7 linked regions of the Homo sapiens genome follow. The protein of the gene in region 1 interacts with the protein of each later gene in a pairwise test. Each region holds a gene or a part of one and is shown in the gene's direction. Other genes may lie near its edges. The genes, in order: PDLIM5, KRT40, JPH3, ZYX, ATXN1, GABPB1 and CCDC136.

Region 1 (3,500 bases):
TAAAGTACTTTGAGTTAAACTTTGCATGCAAGAAGCCACAAAATTGGATTGAAGCAAGTTGTGAAACATACTAAGTGTCTAGAAATGTATTCTGATATGGAATTTTTAGACCATGGAAATTGCCATGAGTGTAGAAAATTTATATTAGCTCACAGATTGCTTTTCTTAAACTGAAATTAATGAAGAACTTAATTAAGACTTATCTTCTATATCCTCTCACCCCCCTCAAACAAAATACTAAACATAATTTATGTTCTAGGGTTTCAAGTAAACATTTTTGCTAATCATCTGATTTTCTTTCACAGCATATTTCATTTTCTGTCATTGGACTTTGAGCCATTAGAACCATGAGCAACTACAGTGTGTCACTGGTTGGCCCAGCTCCTTGGGGTTTCCGGCTGCAGGGCGGTAAGGATTTCAACATGCCTCTGACAATCTCTAGTGTAAGTAAACTTTACAAATTTTATTATAGATGTTCATTCAGTGCTTAGTCCTCGGGCTGAGTTGTTTAATTCTCTGTTGACCTGTACTCTACTTATTATCATTGCTCCTGGGATTTGATCTTGGCAAATTTGATTATCTATAATAAAGGATGAGGGGAGTAGATTTAGCAAGGATAACTGACTTCAATTTAACTTCTTTTCGTTTTCCCCCATGTTATCAATAATAAAATGGAAAAAGCATTTAACTAGGAACAGACTGTACATTTTTGAACTGTCCCTAATTTGGGGAATTCTCTGAATCTTCGTTCTTTCATATATAATTTTCAAAGGTTGTGCTATGGGATTTTAATAATCTCTTTCAGTTCCAAAAGCTGTTTGTTAAAAACTGTTGATCAAAATTGAATAAAATGATTGTTTCGGAATTATTTCCTCAGCTCACTTTCTGGTGGAGGTGATAGCCAACAGTAAGATGGCCAAAAGCTACTTACCCTTGAAGAGGAAATGAAGGGCTTGGAGCTCCAACTAGATAGCCTATGAATAATTGAGATTTGGCTTTTTACCTCATTATGGATTTAGTTTGAATGTATTCTGTGTATATATTTTAAGGATATGTTTTCATGATGATGATGATAGCACTGATGAGAGGAGTAATTAAAGCTTCTATTTATTGAGACTTGACTATATGTCAGGTACTGTTTCACTTTCATCACCAGTAGGTAATTATTACTATTATATAAGTTTCTAAAAGGTTTGTTTTTGCATATTCAAATAAATATGAATTTCCATCTTCTTTTACTCAAATGGTGGCATATTATACACACAGTTTTTTTTGAGACAGAGTTTTGTTCTTGTTGCCCAGGCTGGAGTGCAGTGGCGCAATCTCGGCTCACCACAACCTCCATCTCCCGAGTTCAAGCGATTCTCCTGCCTCAGCCTCCCGAGTAGCTGGGATTACAGGCATGTGCCACCACGCCTGGCTAATTTTGTATTTTTAGTAGAGACCAAGTTTCCCTATGTTGGTCAGGCTGGTCTTGAACTCCCGACCTCAGGTGATCTGCCCACCTCGGCCTCCCAAAGTGCTAAGATTACAGGCGTGAGCCACCGTGCCTGGCCCACACTGTTTTATACTTTGCTTTTTTTTGCAACAATTTACCCTGAGATCATTCTCTATTAATATATAAGGAGGTATGTGTGTTTTTTTAAAACAATTGTATAATTTTATTTTATAAGGAAAGTGACATTTAACCAATCCCCTACTGAAGAGTATTTGTGGCATTTCCATATTACTGTTACAGTGGTACAGTGAATACCAAATATAAGTACATACATATATATGTGAATATATGTATCTACGTCATTTTGAAAGGTTGTGCCAATTTACACTTTTGTGCAACGCATGAAAATACTATTTTTGTGCCAGTCTTACCAACAAACTTGGATATTTATCAAGTGCTGTGAATGCATCATCTCATTTAATTATCATACCAACATGCAAAATAGTGATATTATTCCCATTGTATATAACTGTGCTGTGCGCTCACATGACTGTATGGAAGAGCTGGCTTTCCAACAGTTATGCTGTGCTGCCTCTTTAATAATTCACTTTACCTTAAATTTAGTTAGTTGTTTCTTTAATCAGATATTTAGAAGATTGTCATTTTGGTTAATAATATATGTGTATGTATAAATATATATACACACACATACTCTGCATCTTGTATGTGTATCCAACTTCATTTTGAAAGATTAAAAATAAGTTTGTAACGCCTAAATATCCTTATTAAAATACTGCAAATCCCATTTTACTAACGGAGTCTCCTTTGTTTCTTGGCTGTGGATTTTTTTAAAGTTATCTTTAATTTATCATCAATTTCTGCCTTGATTTCAGTTAATTAGATTTTATAAGGAAGTATATATATGTAATCCAGCCTGCAAGTTTTAACACCTTTCATGGTTAGATGAAATTTTAAATGTAAAGCATCCATGTGAAAATGTGTCATGTGATTTATTCCTGTTTGAGTGAGTTGGTATTTTATTTCTTCTACTGATGATCTATTATGGGAACAGGAGCAATCTTTGAGTATTATTGGTTTTTACGTTTTGTTAGCATTTTATATTTTAAATATTCTACTTTAATTATCTAAAGAAAGTTATTAGTTTAAATGCTTACTTTTTTGCTGAAAAAAAGTTCAGAAACAAATTGACACCTAAATGAGCCAAACTTAATTATCACTTTGTTGTGTGGTAATAGAAATGCAAATAGAGTATGTTTGCGAATTTTGTGGTACCGTGTCTTTAAAAAAGTTTCATGTGCTTCAGTTTCCTGGCAGACAGTTTGAGGTACTAGCTCCATGTTGTGATGCTGATACAACAGAACACTGTGTACATACATATGTGCCCTCCCCTGGCACAGAAGAAATGCTTTCCTTGTGTAGACAGAGTGCTAATTAAAGGATTTTGAACATACTGATTAAAAGAGACTATGGTAACAAAGCTGCTGAGTTATTTCTGTTCTCTTACAAAAGTCTCTGCCATCTACTGTGACCTTTTTGGGCCTTGTGCAGTGGGGCATGCAATTCATTCTGGACTGGAGAGGATTGGAAGGGGAGGGGAAGGAGAGAAGGGAATGTTGGCTCAATCGGGCTGCTAGGCTCTTGGCCTTTCATTGTAGTTATTTTTAACCCCTTGTGTGGTTTAAATATGCCTAGTAACATTGCCTAATAAAGGTTTGCGTTTAATAACTAATTTATATTGTGGTAAGATTGTTAATGTTATAAATTTTTAACTTACTCTCATCTTAATTAGTTCTTTGGTTATACTTTTTCTGCCTTAATTATGTAAAATTACTGGGATATTACTGGTCATCAGGTTCTTTAATTAATAGTATCAAGAAACAATTAAAACCTGAAAGCATGCTTAAAACATGTAATTTAATGATTCACTTACTTTAATAATGCACATGAAATTCTTAGCAAGGTCTGGCAGTCTCTCAATTATCTTTTATAATAATATTATAAACTTTAAAAAGAAAACTATTTAGAGACTTGAAACATTAAA
Region 2 (4,112 bases), on another chromosome or scaffold:
AGACGAAGAAACTGAGGCCCTTCTAAGTGGTGAAAAGAGATTCAGCCCAGGCAATCTGAATCAAAATCTCACACTTTTACCCACTGCTCCAAAAAACAGAAGTAGAATGCCATTGGATGTCAAATGGATTTTTCCCCACCATTCTGTGACATTCTTTACACCATCCCACTTTCAGGAAGTCAACTTGCTTCGTGAACAGCTTGGCGACCGCCTCAGTGTGGAGCTGGACACTGCCCCCACCCTTGACCTCAACAGGGTCCTGGATGAGATGCGCTGTCAGTGTGAAACGGTGCTTGCCAACAATCGCAGAGAAGCTGAAGAATGGTTGGCTGTTCAGGTCAGTACCCAGATTGAAAAAATGTCAGGCTTACAGACTTCTGCCTTTTTTGAATTCTCTAATGGTGTCTGTGTTTCAGACAGAAGAGCTGAATCAGCAGCAACTGTCCAGCGCGGAGCAGCTGCAGGGCTGCCAGATGGAGATCTTGGAACTGAAACGCACAGCCAGTGCTCTGGAAATTGAGCTCCAAGCACAGCAAAGCCTGGTGCGTGAGGCAAAGGCAGTGTCCGTTGTGTCACTGATAAGTCAGGCCCTGAGATGTTAAGCCCTCTTCCATATCCGAGGATCACATTTCCTTGCCTTTCCCGAGTACTGCCGTTTACCCAGCTATTAATAGAAGCAGAAGTGACAGGTCCACAGCTTGTCCTCTAAGATGCCTTACCTTCACTCCTGGGCTTGAGTCTGATGCTGCAGCAGCCTCCAGAGACAGGGAGGGAGAAGCAGAGCTGGAGAGAAACCTCCGGGCCATGGTCGCTTAAGCATTCTGGCAGGTTTTAATTCTCATTTGATTCAGGCCAGTTTTCCAGGCTCACTGTTATATCTAAAACAAAGAATCATTTTCAAACATTTCATCCTACAGTTTCCCAGGATCTACACTTCAACCTTATCCTTCACTGCACCACCCCCCACTCAAGCAACAGGAACACCATGCGTTCAAGATGACATGAACCAGTTCTGGTCAAGCACCACTGTGTGCATGTCATTAGGCCCTGCGGAGAACACCTAGAAGAACAATAGCTGAGCATTCATCCTGTGAGAGGCACTATGCTGATTTAAGGCTCACAGTAACTTTACCGGATAGATACCTTTATCCCATGACACAGATAAGGAAAACTGAGACTCAGATTAAGTAACTTGCAAAGGATGCAATTCTAAGAGGCAAACTTGGAAGCTGAGTTCAGCCAGTTGAATCCCAGAGTCTCTTCTCTCTCTCTTTTTAAATTTATTTTTATTGATATATAATATGCGTAAATTTTTTTTACGTAGATGTGATATTTTGTTACATGCATAGAATGTGTAATGATCAAGTCAGGATATTTAGAGCATCCATCACCTCAAGTATTTATCATTTCTATGTGTTGGGAGCATTTCAAGTCCTCCCATCTAGCTATTTTGAAATGCACAGTGTATTGTTGTTAACTGTAGTCACACTTCTCTGCTGTCCAACATGAAAACATATTCTTTCTGTCTAACTGTATGTTTGCACCCATTAACCAACCTCTCTTCATCCCCTTACCACACATATGCCAGTCCCAGCCTCTGGTATCCAGAGCCTCTTCTCTTAATAGCACTATACTACCCCTCCCTGCCAAGAGCCCAAACTCAATCTTTCCTCTCATATGTTGTGGATAGTCCTTAAGCTTCACAAATATGTCATGTATTGCTGTAGTCATAGTGGTGGTAGTGATAGTTGACACGTAGAACAGTGGCAGTATGGCTGGCACTGTTCTAAATGCTTTACGCACATTAACTCTTTTTTTTTTTTTTTGGACGGAGTCTCCCTCTGTCGCCCAGGCTGGAGTGCAATGGCATGATCTTGACTTACTGCAAGCTTTGCCTCCCGGGTTCACACCATTCTCCTGAGTAGCTGGGACTACAGGCGTCCACCACCGTACCCAGCTAATTTTTTATATTTTTAGTAGAGACGGGGTTTCACCGTGTTAGCCAGGATGGTCTCGATCTTCTGACCTTGTGATCCGCCCGCCTCGGCCTCCCAAAGTGCTGGGATTACAGGCCTGAGCCACCGCGCCCAGCCCGCATATTAACTCTTAATCTTCACAACCGTCTAATGAAACAGATACTTTGTATTCTCCACTATACAGAGAATAAAACTGAGACTCACAGAAGCTAAATAATTTGCCAGTGGTCACATAGCTAGAAAAGGGTAAGCAGGAATTTGAAAGTAGGCACTCTGGCCCGAGAGACTGCACTTCATGGTCCTTTGGACAATGTTTCCTCCCGCAGACAGAATCTCTGGAATGCACCGTGGCAGAAACCGAGGCCCAGTACAGCTCCCAGCTGGCCCAAATTCAGTGTCTGATCGATAACCTGGAGAACCAGCTGGCCGAGATCCGCTGCGACCTGGAGCGACAGAACCAGGAGTACCAGGTGCTCCTGGACGTGAAGGCCCGGCTGGAGGGTGAGATCAACACGTACTGGGGCCTGCTGGACAGCGAGGACAGCAGGCAAGTTCCACAGTTACTCATGAAATCCCCCAGAGTCACAAAGAGGCTGATGTAAAAGAATCCTGTTTCCCCAAAGTCTGGACAAGTTCAGACCTCCCCAGTGTGTTTAGGGATCTTCTTAAAAAAGTGCTGAAAAGTGGCTGAGGTTAAGAACATGACACTAGAGATATTTTTAAAATATTCTAAAGGCAGATTAATTATTAGTGTAACATTTCATGCTGGCATCTCCCTTTGTTCCTGTTTTCCACTAAAGGAAAATCAGGAATAGGCCTAAGATAACATTTGCAAAATCAAGAAAAAATATAAAATACTATTCAACTGCCACTGCTACAGTGAACATGAAGTGGCAATTCTGGGTGCAGAGAAGAAACAGGCTTCAGTCAATGCTATTGTGCAGAGTTTTTTTCAGAACATAATTTGTAGGGCAAATTTTGACACGGTTTTTCTGAGTTGCCATTTTATCAACATTCCCTTGTTAATCTTGGTTGAAAATCGATTTTTCCCCAGGCTTTCCTGTAGCCCATGTTCGACCACATGCACCTCGAGCAACACTTGTGAGCCATGCTCAGCCTATGTCATCTGCACTGTTGAAAACTGCTGCTTGTGAATGTTAAGGACAGCAGGTAGAGGAATCAAAGCCAGCAGCATCCTAGAAAGGAGATGGGGCTTCAACCAGGGACATCCAAACCGGAAGCACAAATCCAGGAGGCTCTCATATCCTGGAATTGCCCTCCAGGTATCCTCAGTCTTTCTGCTTTACTATTTCCTCTCCTTCCGGCTTATTTGTGGTATACTGGAAGCCCATAAAGCATTCTTGCTCATCTCCAAATAAAACGTGTTTTATTCCTTTAGCGTGGTAAATATAGCTCTATGGCTGATTACTGTTGATAGAATATTCATTTTATGGCAAGGAAATCATCTAAACCCATAACCATAGTTTCAATGTACATAAACCCAGGCTGAAAATATTTTTTAACTCCTCAAATACAAATAAATTAATGAACCCATGAGAAATGTCATATATCTTAGAAAATAGTTGTGTGTATCTTTCTGAGGAAAAATATTAGGAATAAAATATGATAAAATGTATTTTTTGATTATAAAAGTACTAGATTCTCTTTTTTTAAATTTGGCTCATTAAAAGGGAAAAGGTCACTTATGATTTCATCTTCCAAACAGCCATAGTCAATATTTTGGGGTACTTTCTTCCAGTTTTCTTTCTTATAATAGATTTTTCCACACAGCTATAATCATACTAACATATGCACACACTTGTGTAAACTTTCTTTCATTTATGTCATCTAAGCATTTTTAATTCTAATAAAAACATAAGATTGTATTGTAGCCATCACTTTTTTTATTTTTTATTTTTTTTTTGAGACAGAGTCTTGCTGTGTCACCCAGGCTGGAGTGTAGTCACACTATCTGGGCTCACTGCAACCTCTGCCTCCTGGGTTCAAGCGATTCTCCTGCCTCAGCCTCCCAAGTAGCTGGGACTACAGGTGTCTGCCACCACACCAGGCTAATTTTTTTTTTTTTTTAGTAGAGACAGGGTTTCACCGTGTTAGCCAGGATGGTCTCAATCTCTT
Region 3 (3,500 bases), on another chromosome or scaffold:
AAGAGGAGGAGACAGGGGCGGATGGAGTGATGTCAGAGATCACTGGAGACTCCGTGGCTGGAGGGTGGCTGGAGCGGAGACCCTGGAAGGAAGCAGCACTCCCGACACCTGGATCACGGCTTCTAACTTCCAGAAACACGAGTTTGCCTTTTGGGTGTTTCTACCCCCACCCCCGCGTGGTGCTTTACTGCTCCAGTCCCAAGAAATGGGTGCAGGCTCCCCCACCCTGAGAATTCCAGTTAAGACTCTGGAGTCGGAGATGCTTCCTGGAGGGCTCAGTCCTGGAGTCAGAGGAGATGCTTCCTGGAGGGCTCAGTCCTGGAGTCAGAGATACTTCCTGGAGGGCTCAGTTCTGGATTCAGAGGAGATGCTTCCCAGAGGGCTCAGTCCTGGAGTCAGAGATGCTTCCTGGAGGGCTCAGTTCTGGATTCAGAGGAGATGCTTCCCAGAGGGCTCAGTCCTGGAGTCAGAGATGCTTCCTGGAGGGCTCAATCCTGGAGTCAGAGATGTTTCCCGGAGGGCTCAGTCCTGGAGTCAGAGATGCTTCCTCGAGGGCTCAGTCCTGGAGTCAGAGATGCTTCCTGGAGGGCTCAGTCCTGGACTTGGAGATACTTCCTGGAGGGCTCAGTCCTGGATTCAGAGGAGATGCTTCCCAGAGGGCTCAGTCCTGGAGTCAGAGATGCTTCCTGGAGGGCTCAGTCCTGGATTCAGAGGAGATGCTTCCTGGAGGGCTCAGGTCCCTGCAGGAGGGGCCTTGGGCTGACCTTTTAAGTCCTGAAGCTGCCTCCTCCGACAGTTCTTGTCTTCATGATACAGATGCGGGCCCCTGTGGGGGCCGCTGTGATGGAGAGACGGGGCCGCTGCTGCCTCACTGGTGGGAGTCCAGTCCTCGAGGGTCTGGCCAAGTTGGCCTCACCTCCTGCTGCTGCACCTTGGAGCCTGGCTCACTCTGAGCACCTCGGTCCGATCTGCCACCTCTTTGGGTGGCGCCCCGGAGCCTTCTCTGAGCAGCATCTTCCCTGGAGGGGGCGTTGGGACCGTGTGTTTTTTACAAGCGCTGGGACTGGCATGAGATTTGATCCAAGCATTTCTTGTTTCCGCCTTGGATGCATTCAGGATCAGTGTTCCCAGACCAGGCACCCCGGGGCCTTCTCGGCTGCTGGGGAGGGGTGGGGCTGGGGGAAGCTGTCCAGGTCCTTCCTCAGTCGTCCTCACAGCCAGGAGCTGAGGTCACCAATGACAGATGACAGAACAGAGCCTCCAAGAGGGGAACAGGGTTGCCAGAGCGCTCAGGCAGGATGTGGTGGAATCAGGATTTAAAACGAGGCTCTGAAGCCTGGGCCATGCCGGCTTCTAGAGAAGCAAACCATCCAGCGCTTCGGCTGCAGAGAGTGGCTGGCGCCAGCCTCTTGCTGCCTGTCTGGGAGGTCCCTGGCAGCCTCCCAGCCCGAGAACTCTGACCGTCAGGGTTCTGCCCAAGGCCACGTGAAGGCAGGACCATGAAGGAGCCTGGCCATGCGGTGTCCAGTGCCCAGGCCACTTCCGGTGCCATCCGCCCCCGCCCCAGAGGCAGGAGGACTGAGCGTCGGAGGCTGCAGGACGCAGGTGGCTTGAAGGCACAGGAAGAAGCTGCAGGGGCTTCACGAGGACCCGCCCTGCATCCTCACCACGAGGCTTCTAGGAACGTTACCTGCTCAGCAGCTCATTCTAGCTGAGGGTGCCCTCCTGCTGGTGGTGCTGGGAGTCGGGGCCCCTCTAGCGTGGGGTCTCCTGGGCCAGCCAGGCCTGATCTCGGCAGCAGTGGGTGGACGACCTGGTGGGAAAGGCCGGGGCGCCATCGGGGGATGGGGGGGGCCTTGATCCCAGCCTGCTAGGTCCATAGCGTCTAAGGCACAGGAATGCCAGCCCCTTGGAAGTCCCATCCTGGCCAAGGAGGAGGTACGATGTGGGTGATCCGTGGGCATGATTGGGGGCCTCTGATGGGGCCAGGGCTGCCCTCCACACAGGACCCTCACGGGGAGAGAGGTGGTGGGGCTGGGCGTCAGGTGGGTACGTGGATGTCAGCACAGTTCTACACAGACCTTCTCTGGCCCATTCCCTGCTCTGCTCGGGGGACACCCAACCAGCCCAGCCCTGTTTCTGGGGAGTGACCACAGAGAAGCAGTCATTGAGACCTCAGAGTGGCCCACCCACACCCCCGTGTGACAGGAACTCAGACTTGGGAGGGCTGGCCACCCACCCAGAGCTACCCAGCTGTGCCCCAAGCCCCAGGCCAGGGCCATGGCCTCGCTCTGCTCAGCACTGCCTCTTAGACCAGCAAGGAGGAGGACACAGCAGCCCAGCCTGGTGGCGTCGCAGCGTGCCCCGAATCTGCTTGCTAACGTCTCTTTACAAACGGAGGGACTATCTGGTGCCACACCGAGGGTAGCCATGTCTCCCAGACCTTCTCCTGCCAAAAGGTCAGACTGGGGTACAGGCGTCTCCCAGACCTTCTCCTGCCAAAAGGTCAGACTGGGGTACAGGCCAGGAGAATGTCCGAGCGTGAGAGACTCTAAGATGGGCAGTGGCTCTTGGTGTCCGAGCTGGTCTCATGAGGTGGCCGCCCCGGGTAGAGCTCTGAGACCTCCGTCCTCAGAGGGAAGACTCCCCAAATTCCCACAGAGCTCTGCACCATTTTGGCTCGGGCAGGACGGGGATGCTGGGGGCGGGGGTCCCACTGTTCTGTGCTGAGCCTAGGACGCTACTTGAGATGAACGTGTAACTGTTCCCCGGAGGGTAAGAAGCGCCGCGTTCTTGGGTTTCTCCTAATGGAATAAAGTCGGGCATGGCTCCCGTGTCCCTGCGTTGGCAGGAAATGAGATCCCAGTCAATGTTCTTGGTTCTCACCTCCTGCTGGGGGCTCACGGAGCTCCGGAGAAGTCTCGGGGCTAGTCCTACAATGCTGCCCCTCCCTATCCAGGCCTCCGGGTGGGGGCTGATGGGGACTGAGCCACCGGCAGACGACAGGGACTCTGCTGGCTGCAGAGCTGGCCCCTGGGTCCTGTGGTGACCTCCCCTTCCGGGGAGCCCCGCCCTAGGACTTGAAGCCCCAGCAGCCTCGAAAGGTGGGGAGGGAAGTCGGCTCCTGGGCTCTCACGCTGGCCCCGGCACTGGCTGTTTCTCAGCAAGACTGTCCCAGCACCCTGAGACACAGTCCCAGGCGGGTAGGGGTGTTGGCGGCCTTGCTGTGACAGCTCGGCCTCCCCAGACAGGTGGTCAGCTAGGGTGAGGGGCTTCCTCTTACCCTCAGGACAGGCGAGTCAGGGTTGGTGGGACCTGAGTCCACACCCCAGCGTCCTCACGCACTTTCCGAGCCTTGGGTCTCCCTTGTAGCCTGGGAGCTGCTGTCCGCCCTTCCTGTGGTGCCTGGGCCTAGCCAGTCTCCCTCCAAGTGTCTGTGGGGTGGGGACCACGGGGGTCCCACAGAGGGCTTTGGGAGCCACGGTCCCCACTCCCCTCCC
Region 4 (3,500 bases), on another chromosome or scaffold:
ATGTTTGGAGAACAGAAAGTGGAAGGTTCCTGTAGGAAAATGATAGAGCTATACTTGGAGAGGCAAGCGGGGCTGGAGGGTGTAGGAGGTGAAGTGGCTCACCCAAGGAGCTCTTGAGCACTGGAGAGGCATTCATGATTTTTGAGTAGGTGTGGGGTGGGTCAGGAGGGCTGGTGAAAGCAGTGTTTTTGGAAGCTTTCTGGAAAGTTTCACCAGCAGAGATGTGTATTCGAGGGAGGTCAGTGATGGGTGTGAATTCACTCTTGGGCAATAGTAATGTTAGCTGCAATGAAAATTAAACCGTGCATGTGAGAGCTGTGTGCTAGAGCTGTTGGGAAGGCACAGCCTCCAGGACTTAGCAAGGGATGAGCAATTGGAAGACAAGGGTGAGGGGAAGAGGGAAAAAAAAGTCTCCAGCACGATTTGGAGATGGGGTGTGGGCGGATGGCAGGATTGCTGACAAAATAGAGAAGTCCAGAAGGGGAAATGGTTTGGACGGGAAGAGGAGGGGTCCAGCTGTCAACGTTTTGAGCAACAGGTCCCAGGAGGACTTTCAGCTGGGGCCGTCATTCAGCTAGAAATCCAGGGCTAGGTTTCAGGAGAGGGCCAGAGATGTCTAGCATGGTAGTGGGGCACAGTGACACTGTGACGCTGGAGGGTCAGGGTCGGAGCGGAGGAGCTTCCCAGGGAGTGCAGACAGCGGGGACCAGGAGGTGCGGGAAGAAGAGTCAGGAGGAGAGTCAGGGTGCACTTGGAGAAGAGAGCTGAGCTCCTCAGTGGGGTATTTGAGGGAGTGAGGACTCAAGGCTAGAGATTAGACTGTTGGGAAATCATCAGCGGTCTTGGGATGGCCTGTTTGTGCCCTGTGGTGGGAACACAATGTGAGGAGTTGAGGAGAGAGTGGGTGGTGAGAAGTGGGGCTGCTGGTGTAGCCTGGTCTTAAAGGACTAAGGGAAGGACTGTGTGTCAGTGGTGTGTGTGTGTGTATATATACACATATGTGAATATATGAGTGGCGTGTGTGTGTGTGTTAGTGTGTGGGTGTGGGTATGGTGTATGTGAGTGTATGTGCATGTGTGAGCATGAATGTATGAGTGGCGTGTGATGTGTGTAGTGTGATTGTGTGAAAGTATGTGTATATGAGTACATGTGTGCATGTGTGAGTGAAGGTGTGTGCATGTGTGAGTGTGGCTGTGATGTGTATGGTGTGTGATTGCACAAGTGAAGGTGCACATACATACTTTCTTACAAATACACACAAGTGGCGTATGTGTATATATGTGAGTGGTGTGTGTGAGCGTGTGGTGTGGTATATCTTTTTTTTTTTTTTTTTTTTTTTTTTGGAGACGGAGTGCAGGCTGTCGCCCATGCTTACTACAACCTCCGCCCCCCTGGCTCAAACGATTCTCCTGTCTCAGCCTCCCAAGTAGCTGGGATTACAGGCACGTTCCACCACACCTGGCTAATTTTTGTATTTTTTAGTAGAGATGGGGTTTCACCATGTTGGCTAGGCTGGTCTCGAACTCCTGACCTCAAGTGATCTGCCTGCCTCAGCCTCCCAAAGTGTTGGGATTACAGGTGTGAGCCACCGCGCCTGGCCTGGTGTGGTATTATCTGAATGTGAGTGGTGTGTGTGTGTGTGGTATGGTATATGTGTGAGTGTGTGTGTGTGGTGTGGTATATGTGTGAGTGTATGTGAGTGGTGTATGTGTGTGGTCTGGTATGTGTGTGTGCATGTGAGTGGTATGTGGGTATGTGTGAGGGTGTGTGTGTTTGAGTCTGTGGTGTAGCATATGTGGTTTTTGCAAGTTAGGGGAGAAGGGCTCAGGTACGTGTGTAACCCGGGGAAGCAGGTGATGGAGGGTGAGTGTTGTGGGAGAGCAGGGGCAGGCTGCTTCGGTCCCTGGAGGAGATCTTGGTGATGTCTCCTCCCCCAGAGGCATACCAGACAGCAAGGACAGAGTGGTTGCAGCGTGGATAGGAAGGACGATGAGGGAGCTTAAGCTGGCTGGCTTCCATGTCCTCAACCATGTGGGAGGTGAGGTCACGGTGCGAGCAAAGGGACGAAGCAGGTGGGGGCTCAGGAGATGGAGAGGTCTGGAACGGCTGCTGTGGGGAAGGCTGGGCTGGAGGTCGCGCGGGTGCTGCAGTGTTGTGAGCTCACGCTGCAGTGTTCAGTGATCTCTCCACTGCTTTCTGCAGCTTGGAAGCAGAAACAGGAAGAGGGTGGTGGTGTGACTTGGGGTTGGAGACTGGGCCGGATAGCTGCGGGTGGCTGCAGGTGCCCGGAGGGACAGTGAACCCTGTAGGAGTTAGATGGTCATGGGACCAGGCTGGGGCATGGTGGACAAAGTCCAGGGGTGGGTTGCGGGTGGGGGCAACTAAGGCTTTTCTGGGTTCATGTAGTAGGTGTGGATGGGGAAGAGGAGAGGCAGATAATGGCTGGCAAGAGACTTGGAGGTAAATCTGAGGTCAAGGATGTCCCATGATGGATGATGACTGAGATGGACGGAAGTTTGGTTTGAAGCGGTGGCATTGGTGCAGGCTGGCAGAGGGGGCAGTTCTGGATAGAGTGTCCTGATGAATGGGGATACCCATGGGAGGTGATGCAGATGAGGATTCTGTGCTTCTGAAGGAGGAGCCAGGCATTTAGAATGGCACTGGAGAGCAAGGACTGACTGAGCCCCTTCACTGTGTCCCCAAGAGGCCAGGAAGGGAAGATTGGAGGAGACAAAGTTGAAGTGAGTGTTCCAGGGAACGAGTCAGTTAAGAGATGGTAGGATCTTAAGGGAAGATGGCTAAGATCTTAAGGGAAAATGGCTAAGATCTGGAGAGTTGGACTTATATGGACGCATGCTTCACTGGGCAGAAAGGACGCAACTCTGGGTACAGATGGGGGTCGGGGTGAGGGGCAGTGAAGCCAGGGCTGAGGGGAGAGGGGCTATGGGAGGAGGTAGCAGGGGGGCTTTGGAGGTTCCAGGTGTTATGGGAATGAAGGCATCTGCAGGTAGCACACTCAGTGATGGGGCCACAGTCCTGGGTAGGCTTTTCCAGACATAGAAAAGACCCACCCAGTGCACTTGCTCCTGTGGGCGTGTCTCCCGGCAGTGCTGATGCAGGTCAGACAGCCCTTCCCGGAGTTCTCAGGGTTACCTCTCAGGGTTACTGGCAGCGCTGTCCTTAACATCCACCCCCCACTCCAGTCCCCGGGATCCCCTAAATGGGAAGGTTGGGCTGGCCTAGGGGGTGGCCTTTGGACCTTCTCTGAGGCTGCTGGGGAGGGACCTGAGTGAGGTAGTTCAGAGGCCCCTCACTCGAGGGACAGGGTCTCTGTGTGGGGGTGGGGCTGGGTTCTTGCAGACAGCTCAGTGGGTTTAACCTGCAATTCCTGCCTGTGTTGTATCCTCACGCTGACAGGGGCTGCTCAGCAGCAGGCAGGCCGGGTAGGTGTGTGTGCGCGTGTGTGCACGCCATTGCGTGCCCCTGTCCCATGGGGGCGA
Region 5 (3,500 bases), on another chromosome or scaffold:
CGTGCAGTACGCTCACCTGCCGCACACCTTCCAGTTCATTGGGTCCTCCCAATACAGTGGAACCTATGCCAGCTTCATCCCATCACAGCTGATCCCCCCAACCGCCAACCCCGTCACCAGTGCAGTGGCCTCGGCCGCAGGGGCCACCACTCCATCCCAGCGCTCCCAGCTGGAGGCCTATTCCACTCTGCTGGCCAACATGGGCAGTCTGAGCCAGACGCCGGGACACAAGGCTGAGCAGCAGCAGCAGCAGCAGCAGCAGCAGCAGCAGCAGCATCAGCATCAGCAGCAGCAGCAGCAGCAGCAGCAGCAGCAGCAGCAGCAGCACCTCAGCAGGGCTCCGGGGCTCATCACCCCGGGGTCCCCCCCACCAGCCCAGCAGAACCAGTACGTCCACATTTCCAGTTCTCCGCAGAACACCGGCCGCACCGCCTCTCCTCCGGCCATCCCCGTCCACCTCCACCCCCACCAGACGATGATCCCACACACGCTCACCCTGGGGCCCCCCTCCCAGGTCGTCATGCAATACGCCGACTCCGGCAGCCACTTTGTCCCTCGGGAGGCCACCAAGAAAGCTGAGAGCAGCCGGCTGCAGCAGGCCATCCAGGCCAAGGAGGTCCTGAACGGTGAGATGGAGAAGAGCCGGCGGTACGGGGCCCCGTCCTCAGCCGACCTGGGCCTGGGCAAGGCAGGCGGCAAGTCGGTTCCTCACCCGTACGAGTCCAGGCACGTGGTGGTCCACCCGAGCCCCTCAGACTACAGCAGTCGTGATCCTTCGGGGGTCCGGGCCTCTGTGATGGTCCTGCCCAACAGCAACACGCCCGCAGCTGACCTGGAGGTGCAACAGGCCACTCATCGTGAAGCCTCCCCTTCTACCCTCAACGACAAAAGTGGCCTGCATTTAGGGAAGCCTGGCCACCGGTCCTACGCGCTCTCACCCCACACGGTCATTCAGACCACACACAGTGCTTCAGAGCCACTCCCGGTGGGACTGCCAGCCACGGCCTTCTACGCAGGGACTCAACCCCCTGTCATCGGCTACCTGAGCGGCCAGCAGCAAGCAATCACCTACGCCGGCAGCCTGCCCCAGCACCTGGTGATCCCCGGCACACAGCCCCTGCTCATCCCGGTCGGCAGCACTGACATGGAAGCGTCGGGGGCAGCCCCGGCCATAGTCACGTCATCCCCCCAGTTTGCTGCAGTGCCTCACACGTTCGTCACCACCGCCCTTCCCAAGAGCGAGAACTTCAACCCTGAGGCCCTGGTCACCCAGGCCGCCTACCCAGCCATGGTGCAGGCCCAGATCCACCTGCCTGTGGTGCAGTCCGTGGCCTCCCCGGCGGCGGCTCCCCCTACGCTGCCTCCCTACTTCATGAAAGGCTCCATCATCCAGTTGGCCAACGGGGAGCTAAAGAAGGTGGAAGACTTAAAAACAGAAGATTTCATCCAGAGTGCAGAGATAAGCAACGACCTGAAGATCGACTCCAGCACCGTAGAGAGGATTGAAGACAGCCATAGCCCGGGCGTGGCCGTGATACAGTTCGCCGTCGGGGAGCACCGAGCCCAGGTAACGTTAGCCAGGGTGGCACAGGGATGGGACACCACACCGTGATGCCATCATCATCTCCTGGCAAGACGAATTGCTTCTATGAGGCAGGATTAAGGGTTCTCGGGTACACCTAGACCTTAGACTCGGCCTTTCCCAACTGCGTTCTCTAGAAAAAATAAGCCCCATTTCCCCGTGATCTCTGCTGTGTGTAATGAATTAACCTCCATGCATGGAGAGTGGGGCTAGTTATGGAGTCCTTGAGACAATCCAGAAACTCACCACTCTAGTTATTTTTTGAATTCTGTGATTAAGATGAGGAACCCTGATTAGGAAACGCTGCTGGACTTCAGGTCCTTCTAGTGGTCATTCGGCACTTTTTCTTACCAGGAAAAGACAGAGGATGCCGTTGGAGTGAGGGGATTAGATGCTAAAGCAATCATATCCCATTGCAACATCCATGTTTTAAAATATGTCTTATTAGCTGGGTACAGTGGTATATGCCTTCGGTCCCAGCTACTCCAGAGACTGAGGCAGGAGGATCACTTGAGCCCAGGAGTTCGAGGCTGTAGTGAGCTATGGCTGAACCTGTGACTATCACTGCACTCAAGCCTGGGCAACATAGCAAGGCCCGGTCTCCAACATATATATAATGTCTTATTATTTAGGTATGATAAGGCCAACAGATAGATCAGCAGACAACTCTCTTTGACGAGATAATTTTTATACTCTCTGATCCCAAGAGGAAAGGGCACTCTACACCAAGAGGTGTAGAACACCGTAAAGTGGGGGGCACCTGGGGAAGCCCCAGGTGGGTCAGGAGGTGGAGGGAGTGAGGGGAAATGTGGCAAACAACAGCCTTTATTGTGGTTTCATGGGAGGCAGGGTAAACGGGTTTAGGATTGGTTAGAGTGGATAATTCCAGTGTGCTCTGGGGTGTAGGGGCTGTCCTTAGTTGTCTGGCTGCTGGTGCTGGGGTGATCAATACAGGTGGAAGGGCTGGGCACAGTGGCTCACACCTGTAATCCCAGCACTTTGGGAGGCTGAGGCGGGTGGATCACCAGAGGTCAGGAGTTCGAGACCGGCCTGGCCAACATGGTGAAACCCTGTCTCTACTAAAAATACAAAAATTAGCCGGGCATGGTGGTGTGTGCCTGTAATCCCAGCTACTCCAGAGGCTGAGGTAGGAGAATTGCATGAACCCGGGAGGTGGGGATTGCAGTGAGCCGAGATCAGGCCACTGCACTCCAGCCTTGGACACACAGCAAGACTCTGTCTCAGACAAAAAAAAAAAAACAGATGGAAGGCAGCCCTAAGTGTGATGGACCAATATAGGAGGCTGCTGGGGAGTGGGCTCTGGACTGGTTAGTTTGCATATGAAAGTCAGGCTCCTAGGAATTAGCTCTGGACTGGTTGGTTTGCATATAAAAGTCAGGCCTCTAGGAATTAGCTAATCCTAGGAGAGACTATACCTCTGGGATCCACAAGACACTAAAATATCAAAGCATCAGAAAATAAAAGCGTGGTTAATACAATCTGAGAAGTCAGGGCTGTCCCAGGTGACCTGCTGGGCTTGGGGTAAAGTCAGCTGTAGCCAAGATGAGTCACTGGAAGTATGGTTAACGCTCTTAATTTCCACAGGCTCCTTCAATCTACCCTTTTCCAGGTTCTTAGATCGATTACATGCATTTATTCCACAGCCCATTTCTTTCACTGCCCAAGTTGCTGGGAGTCCAGCAGGTTCAGCCTGCAGCTGAGAGCTTTCCTGGCTATCGAGCGTACTTTCTACAAGTGTTTCCATCTAGGATTTGAAAACATTCAAATGGGACAGAGCCTCCTTCCAGCTTGAGTTGAAAATAGTCATGAAATAGCTGCTATTTGGGACATTCAGATAAAATAAAACAAGAAAAAAAAGATAAACTAATTAATGGTTTGAATTGTTTTGGGCATTTTT
Region 6 (3,500 bases), on another chromosome or scaffold:
AACTAATAATTTCATATCAGGAATTTTTTATGTGATATTTCATATTTTAGTAAACTCTTTGAAATATTTTTGTAGCATGGTGCTGATGTCAATGCAAAGGACATGTTAAAGATGACAGCTCTCCATTGGGCCACAGAACACAATCATCAAGAGGTGGTGGAACTTTTAATCAAATATGGTGCTGATGTACACACGCAAAGTAAATTTTGTAAAACTGCATTTGATATTTCAATAGACAATGGAAATGAAGATTTAGCAGAGATATTACAGGTAACTTTTGGCTTTTAATTTAAGAAAATAAAGAAAAAGAAGCCTTATCAGTAGAGGGATCTCTTATATTGTGCATGATTTAAACTATTGTTTGTAGCCTTTCATTTTGGACTTAGTTATTTTGGATAGGCCTTTTTCTCTTTCACTTCCTCTTTGTTTATTACTATTCATTTTCTTGATTATAAGGCCAGTCTCTTCATTAACATTAGATAAGGTGATTACTTTCTGTTTTTTAAGTTTCTGAATTTCCCTTTAGACCTTTTTTTTTTTTTTTTTTTTTTTTTTGAGCCAGAGTCTTGATCTGTCCCCCAGGCTGGAGTGTAGTGGCACGATCTTGGCTCACTGCAACTTCTGCCTCCTGGGTTCAAGCAATTCTCCTGCCCCAGCCTCTCAAATAGCTGGGACTACAGGTGCATGCTGCCATGCCTGGCTAATTTTTTGTGTTTTAAGTAGAGATGGTGTTTCATCATGTTGCCCAGGCTGGTGTTGAACTCTTGAGCTCAGGCGATCTGCCTGCCTCGGCCTCCCAAAGTGCTGGGATTACAGGCGTGAGCCACTGCGCCTGGCCCTAGACATTTTATTCTATTATTTTTGTTGCATTTTGATACTATATGGTTTTTCCAAGTCTACTATAAATGACTTTATAAAAATTAAAAAACATATATATTAGCAACCATAATATCATTCCTTGAGTGAGTGATGCAGTTTGATTTGTTTCTTTTATCTTTCAGCATCCTCAAAAATATCTGTTGTTTTTGGCTTTTGGGAAGATTTTTCTAGTAACCAACATTACTTCTCTTATTTTCAGCCAGATGACATAATATAAATTATCTTCTTTAATTACTGCCTCTTCTTGCCTGTTTGTTCCCAATCCCAGCAGTAGAACTCTTCTTTTCTAAGACTATCTGACTCCTTTGAGCTTCCACTAGTTACTTAAAAGATGTTTTATGTTCAGGAAAATGAATTCTACCATGCCTCTTTTCATTCCTTTTACTCCTAAGAGTGCAGTTTGGGGGTTGGAGTTGAAGATGGGGAACAATTAATTGAGAAGGACATGCTTTATATATGTGGTATTATGTATTGCCAAACGTAGAAGAAATAATTAAATTCCTATAGCTACAGGGCAGAAATATTTTTTGTTTGTTTTGTTTTTGTTTTTGTTTTTTGAGATGGGGGTCTCACTATGTTGCCCATGCTGGTCTTGAACTCCTGGGCTTAACCACTCCTTCTGCCTCAGCCCCCTGAATAGCTGGGATTACAGGCACCTGCCACCTCAGCCAGCTTAATGTCCAGTTGTTCTGTGTTCTGTTAAAAACCTTTTAGATACTCGTTTCTCCTCTCCCAGGATTTTGCTGCTTTACCTAAGAGGGGGACTTGGGATATAAATATATACCCATGATGTGCCCCTACACTGTCAGTGGACCTTAGACAAATATTTCCACTTGTACTATGTGATTCTTCTTAGAGAATACTCCTTTATATGTGTTTGTATTATATGGAGAATTTGTGCTATATGTTCTGGTTATAATTCTGAAAACACTGTGGTCATTTTTTCCCTAGATTGCTATGCAGAACCAAATCAACACAAACCCAGAGAGTCCTGACACTGTGACAATACATGCTGCAACACCACAGTTTATCATTGGACCTGGAGGGGTGGTGAACCTAACAGGTCTGGTATCTTCAGAAAATTCATCCAAGGCAACAGGTATTGAGATGCATATAGGATAGGCTTTGGGATTTTATGCTTTAGTAGGTATTCATCCTTGTAAGAAAGGACGGTTGGAGAATGAGGGTAAGATTCTATCAGCCACCTTTGTTTTCTTTGGTATAACTGGCAAAAAGATTTTTATGAGACAAAACAATCTGAAGAAAGGTGATATTACAAAATTTACTGCAGTATTACCTTTCAAAAGCTAATGCTATCCAAGCTTTGTTTAAGAGTCAGTAAGATAAATAGAATATCAGAAATATGCATTGGATTAAGCTCCTTAGAAATTCAAATCTATTTTCTTTTTTCTTACAGATGAAACGGGTGTATCTGCTGTTCAGTTTGGAAACTCTTCTACATCAGTATTAGCTACATTAGCTGCCTTAGCTGAAGCATCTGCTCCATTGTCCAATTCTTCAGAAACTCCAGGTTAGAAAAACGAGTCTAATGTGTACATTAAAATTGCAGATTCAGGCTGGGTGCCGTGGCTCACACCTGTAATCCTAGCACTTTGGGAGGGCGAGGCGGGTGGATTGCCTGAGCTCAGGAGTTTGAGACCAGCCTGGACAACATAGTGAAACTCTGTTTCTACTAAAAATACAGAAAATTAGCCAGGCGTGGTGGCACATGGCCTGTAATCCCAGCTACTCGGGAGGCTGAGGCAGGAGGATTGCTTGAACCCGGGAGGTGAAGGCTGCAGTGAGCTGAGTTTGTGCCACTGCACTCCAGCCTGGGTGATAGAGCAAGACTCTGTCTCAAAAAAAAAAAAAAAAAAAAAAAACCAAAAACAGTTGCAGATTCAAATATTTACAAAGGCCAGGAAGACAATAAAAGGCTAAAGTGGGCAGGATTGAGATTACACCCGGCTGAAGAATGGGGCAAGGGCAGGGAGGCATCTGTGACTCAACTCTAGCTGATTATAGTCATCAGTCCAGTATTCCCAAATTCTGTTTTTTAATAGGAAGCTGTGAATCTGGATTTTAAAAGAACATTAAATCTTGGTAACTAATTGAAAAACAAAACTTGTGTGGCTCACAGAAAAAAATGTCCCTGTCTCTAATTTGGCTCTTGATTTACTAGTTTGTGACTTTTTGTTTAAACAACTCACTTTGGCTGGGCATGGTAGCTCACACCTGTAATCCTAACACTTTGAGAGGCCAAGATAGGTGGATTGCTTGAGCCCAGAACCCTGGGCAACATGGTGAAACCCTATCTCTACCAAAAAATATAAAAATTAGTCAGGTGTGGTGGTCCACTCCTGTGGTCCCAGCTGCTCAGGAGGCTGAGGTCAGAGGATCGCTTGAACCTGGGAGGCAGAGGTTGCCATGAGCCAAGATCATGCCACTGCATTCCAGCCTAGGCGACTGAATGAGACCCTGCCTCAAAAAAAAAACCCAAAACCAAAAAACACTTTTTTCATAAATTTTAATTTTTAGCAGCTCTACTAGAGTGTTATAAAATCTTAATGACTGATAGAACTAGGAAATAGTATACAGAAACCACTGTTAAAGGGTTACCT
Region 7 (3,500 bases), on another chromosome or scaffold:
ATTTAAAGAGAGAATTAGGAAAGCAAAAATGGGAAAAATTAGGGTGAAATTAAGTCCTTATTTGTAAGGAGTGTAGTTGCATTAAAAAACAACTGGGGTTAATGAGAATAACAGGAGCTAAGAGTTCCCAACAGGGTGGGAATATGGTGTATAAAGGAAAGGGCCGGAGAAGAGGAAGGGGGAAATGAGAAAGGGGCATCGATAGCATTCCCCATCAAACTGCCCCCAGAAAGGAATGGTGGAAGTTTAGAGCAAGGCCAGCCACCAGTCTAGAGCAACCTGCTCTGAAGGAGCAGCCTGCAGGGGATCCCCAATCGGTATCTAAACAGCCAGAATGCATTGTGGCTTGGGGTGACCAGTCCAAGGTGACTGCACAGGGAGAGGATCACAAGAGGCAGGAGAGCGCAGAAGTGCTCTGTTAGCCACCCAAGAAGCTTACCTTACAGAGTAACCACCCCCTCCACACCCGCCCCCACCCACAGTGTGACACACTGCTGTCCAGACTGACAGAATTGCAGGAAAAGTACAAGGCCAGCCAGAAGGAGATGGGGCAGCTGCAGATGGAGCAGTGTGAGCTCCTGGAGGATCAGAGGAGGATGCAGGAGGAGCAGGGCCAGCTGCAGGAAGAGCTGCACAGGCTCACACTGCCACTGCCAAAGAGTGGCCTCTTACTCAAGGTAACTCTGCCACAGGCAGCTGCTAACTGCGGGGAAGCTGCTCTGAGAAGCTTCCCTGTGTGACTAGGGAAAAATAAAAGGGTGGGGATTGAACTTTTTCTCTTACCAACCACTCCTTACTTTCTCACCACTCTCCCCAAACCAAAAAGCTCCATAGAGCCAATTAGAGTTTTTCTTATAAGGGCTTTAAATCTTAAAATACCTTTTATACTCAGGAATCTGTGCAGCAGTTTATATTTAGGTATTTAGTCCATCTGGAGAAAATGCACCTGAAGCCACTTTGTAAACTACAAAATATATCCCAACACAAGAGACCACTGCCACTTTTAGCAGGTCTCCATAGAAGGGCTCCCCCGTCCCCAGATGGGCTCTGTGAAGTCAACCCTGAGATTCTTCAGGGAATTGTTCACAACGGGGATGAGGCACCAAGGAGGCATCAGACTTCCTGTGTGACCACCACCATCCCTTGCCTCCTTCCTTCTACTCCGCCTCAGAGTCAGGAGCTACTCACCAAGTTAGAAGACCTGTGTGAGCTGCAGCTGCTCTACCAAGGCATGCAGGAGGAACAGAAGAAGCTGATACAGAACCAAGACTGTGTATTAAAAGAACAATTAGAGATCCACGAAGAGCTGCGACGTTTCAAAGAGTCTCATTTCCAGGAAGTGTTGGAGAATCCCGATGATTCCAAATTGGCTAAGTCCTCCAAATGTAATCGAAACAAGGTAACCATAGCAAGAGGTAGGGAGACAGTTCTCCTGAGCACAACAGCATGGCAGAGAGAGTGGGCACCGCCGAAGGGTCAGAGTTGGGAAGGCGTGTTTGGCCAGGGGTAAGGATAAGGCAAAAGCCCTGCCTTTCACCAGCTGTGACCACTCACAGGCTCCATTAAGAGGTGGCTTTTAGATACGGCCTGAGGACCTCACCTAGATGCCATTATCCTTTATCACACTGATATTCACAGTGCCCAGTTGAAGCACTATGAGCACTCAGGGCAGAGCTGGGATGACCAGAAGTCTGTCATCAGATCATTCGACTCATTCCCAGTAAGATGTATAATATCAGTTTGGTGTTTGTTTGGATTCCTTTGGACTGACTCTAAATGTCATCTTTTTCTTGAGTGGAAAAGTACACTTCTCAGTTATCAAAATCTATCACCTTTGGTGTTCTCTATGAGGCAAATTTGGGGCCTTTCATTTCCAAGAGAAGAATTCCTAGCATATGGGGTTCTTAGTACTGACCACACTATCTTCATTGGAACTTTGGTGGCAGTAACAGAGCAAGGTCACAGGGGTTAGACCAGAAAATTGATGCCTCTCAAGTACCAGCAAGAGGTCATTCAGATGAGGTGACACAGGTGGAGATCACCATACAATTCTCTTCAGGGTTGGGGGATAAAGTTGTTCTGAGGTCTCAGCGTGGGCAAGGAGGGGCAGGTAGACAGTTTCGGTTTAGGCCAAATCTATTCATTCAGATCTTATTCTGAACAAGGAGAACCAGGGAGTAGCAGAAGTCAACACTGTGAGGCTGGATCATATTCCAGGGGCATCAGATGTCCAGGCTGGAGGCCTGGGTAACACAGCTGGGAACCAGGTATAAAATATTTCCTTAACTGATCAGATCTCATCCTGGACATCAGCAGCCAAGAAGCCAGGCCCAACATGCCCAGAGGCCAGATTCAGAATTGGGGCAGGAGATACAGGAACTAATAGTAAGACTTTGATTCCAATTCTTCATATTGCCGCATTCAAGGCCGGGGCTGATTTTAGAACTAGGGGTGGGCGAGGGGACTGAGCCTGAAGGTCAGGATAACAGGTATACCTGACTGAGAAGAGGGTGTGGTAGGGAGCCAGGGTGTTCTGGAAACCCACTCGGCACTGCTCCAAGGAGACAGGGATGTACCAAAGTGCAGAAACCAGCCGAAATGGGAGCCCGGAAATCATGGAGTATCTGCCCTGGGGAGATTTTCCCAAATGAGCAAGAAACTGATACATGCCAGTTACCTATAGGCTAAGTCAGAGACATAGGCCGGGGTGAGGTGGAAATGTAGGTGTGCCATTCTCTAAGGTGTGCTCTCAGACATCTGTACCAGGAGAGGTGCAGCTGGAAGGACTGAAGTGTCAGAGTAATGATACTGTCTCCCCACCCCTGCCCCCAGCAATCCAAGCTGCTCATGGAGCAGATGCAGGCCCTGCAGGTGATGTATGACGCCGGTCAGGCGAAGCAGGAGCTCTTGCAGCAAGAGCAAGGGAGGCTCCTAGAGGAGCGGAAGAGGCTGCAGGCAGACTTGCAGCTCTGCCTGGAAGAAATGCAGCTGCTTCAAGTCCAGTCCCCTTCTATAAAAATGAGCCTTGAGTCCTACGGGAAGAGCTATGGTAGCATGGTCCCCAGCAATGAGAACTGTCGCAAGACTTATGATACCACTGTGGATGACAATGAGAGCTATTACAAGAGTTACACCAGCACCCAGACCAGCAGCAAGAGCTTTCTCAAGAGCTATGACAGCAGCACCAGTGCCAGTGAGGCCTATGGGAAGAGTTACTGCACTACCAGCAACAGCAGCATTACCTATAAGAAGAGTTACGGCAGCACCAGTAGCTCTGACACCTGCCAGAAGAGTTTTGTCAGCAGCTGCACTGACGAGGAACCTGCTGAGCCTGAAGACATGGAGGTAATGGTTGCCAGGTGACAGGTCAGGCAGGGGACGATGGACTCTTGTCTTTTTAAGAGATACATCGCCAGGGGAAGGGGCAAGAAGTGTGGGAATGGGGTCAGAACTGACCTGGGGAACTATTGGAAGTAAGCGAAGCCCTCTACCCATGGCAG

The links.
Region 2: the proteins of PDLIM5 (region 1) and KRT40 interact in binary tests that used the Homo sapiens proteins (3 or more experiments, as listed by UniProt).
Region 3: the proteins of PDLIM5 (region 1) and JPH3 interact in binary tests that used the Homo sapiens proteins (3 or more experiments, as listed by UniProt).
Region 4: the proteins of PDLIM5 (region 1) and ZYX interact in binary tests that used the Homo sapiens proteins (3 or more experiments, as listed by UniProt).
Region 5: the proteins of PDLIM5 (region 1) and ATXN1 interact in binary tests that used the Homo sapiens proteins (3 or more experiments, as listed by UniProt).
Region 6: the proteins of PDLIM5 (region 1) and GABPB1 interact in binary tests that used the Homo sapiens proteins (3 or more experiments, as listed by UniProt).
Region 7: the proteins of PDLIM5 (region 1) and CCDC136 interact in binary tests that used the Homo sapiens proteins (3 or more experiments, as listed by UniProt).

What each region holds. Positions count from the first base shown.
Region 1 is NC_000004.12:94,454,942-94,458,441, forward strand, and holds part of PDLIM5 (PDZ and LIM domain protein 5), read left to right. Parts: intron 1-305; 5' UTR 306-347; coding exon 348-443; intron 444-877; exon of another isoform or gene 878-1,302; coding exon of another isoform or gene 1,303-1,617; exon of another isoform or gene 1,618-2,243; intron 2,244-3,500. UniProt on the Homo sapiens protein: May play an important role in the heart development by scaffolding PKC to the Z-disk region. May play a role in the regulation of cardiomyocyte expansion. Isoforms lacking the LIM domains may negatively modulate the scaffolding activity of isoform 1.
Region 2 is NC_000017.11:40,977,215-40,981,326, reverse strand, and holds the end of KRT40 (keratin, type I cytoskeletal 40), read left to right. Parts: exon of another isoform or gene 1-2; coding exon of another isoform or gene 3-26; exon of another isoform or gene 27-175; coding exon 176-337; exon of another isoform or gene 338-416; coding exon 417-542; exon of another isoform or gene 543-2,302; coding exon 2,303-2,523; intron 2,524-3,030; coding exon 3,031-3,130; 3' UTR 3,131-3,612; downstream 3,613-4,112. UniProt on the Homo sapiens protein: May play a role in late hair differentiation.
Region 3 is NC_000016.10:87,686,008-87,689,507, forward strand, and holds part of JPH3 (junctophilin-3), read left to right. Parts: intron 1-3,500. UniProt on the Homo sapiens protein: Junctophilins contribute to the formation of junctional membrane complexes (JMCs) which link the plasma membrane with the endoplasmic or sarcoplasmic reticulum in excitable cells.
Region 4 is NC_000007.14:143,384,345-143,387,844, forward strand, and holds part of ZYX (zyxin), read left to right. Parts: exon of another isoform or gene 1-1,041; intron 1,042-3,500. UniProt on the Homo sapiens protein: Adhesion plaque protein. Binds alpha-actinin and the CRP protein. Important for targeting TES and ENA/VASP family members to focal adhesions and for the formation of actin-rich structures.
Region 5 is NC_000006.12:16,324,461-16,327,960, reverse strand, and holds part of ATXN1 (ataxin-1), read left to right. Parts: coding exon 1-1,567; intron 1,568-3,500. UniProt on the Homo sapiens protein: Chromatin-binding factor that repress Notch signaling in the absence of Notch intracellular domain by acting as a CBF1 corepressor. Binds to the HEY promoter and might assist, along with NCOR2, RBPJ-mediated repression. Binds RNA in vitro.
Region 6 is NC_000015.10:50,299,699-50,303,198, reverse strand, and holds part of GABPB1 (GA-binding protein subunit beta-1 isoform beta 2), read left to right. Parts: intron 1-75; coding exon 76-270; intron 271-1,830; coding exon 1,831-1,942; coding exon of another isoform or gene 1,943-1,978; intron 1,979-2,296; coding exon 2,297-2,410; intron 2,411-3,500.
Region 7 is NC_000007.14:128,808,968-128,812,467, forward strand, and holds part of CCDC136 (coiled-coil domain-containing protein 136), read left to right. Parts: intron 1-482; coding exon 483-677; intron 678-1,171; coding exon 1,172-1,399; intron 1,400-2,294; coding exon of another isoform or gene 2,295-2,385; intron 2,386-2,832; coding exon 2,833-3,345; intron 3,346-3,500. UniProt on the Homo sapiens protein: May play a role in acrosome formation in spermatogenesis and in fertilization.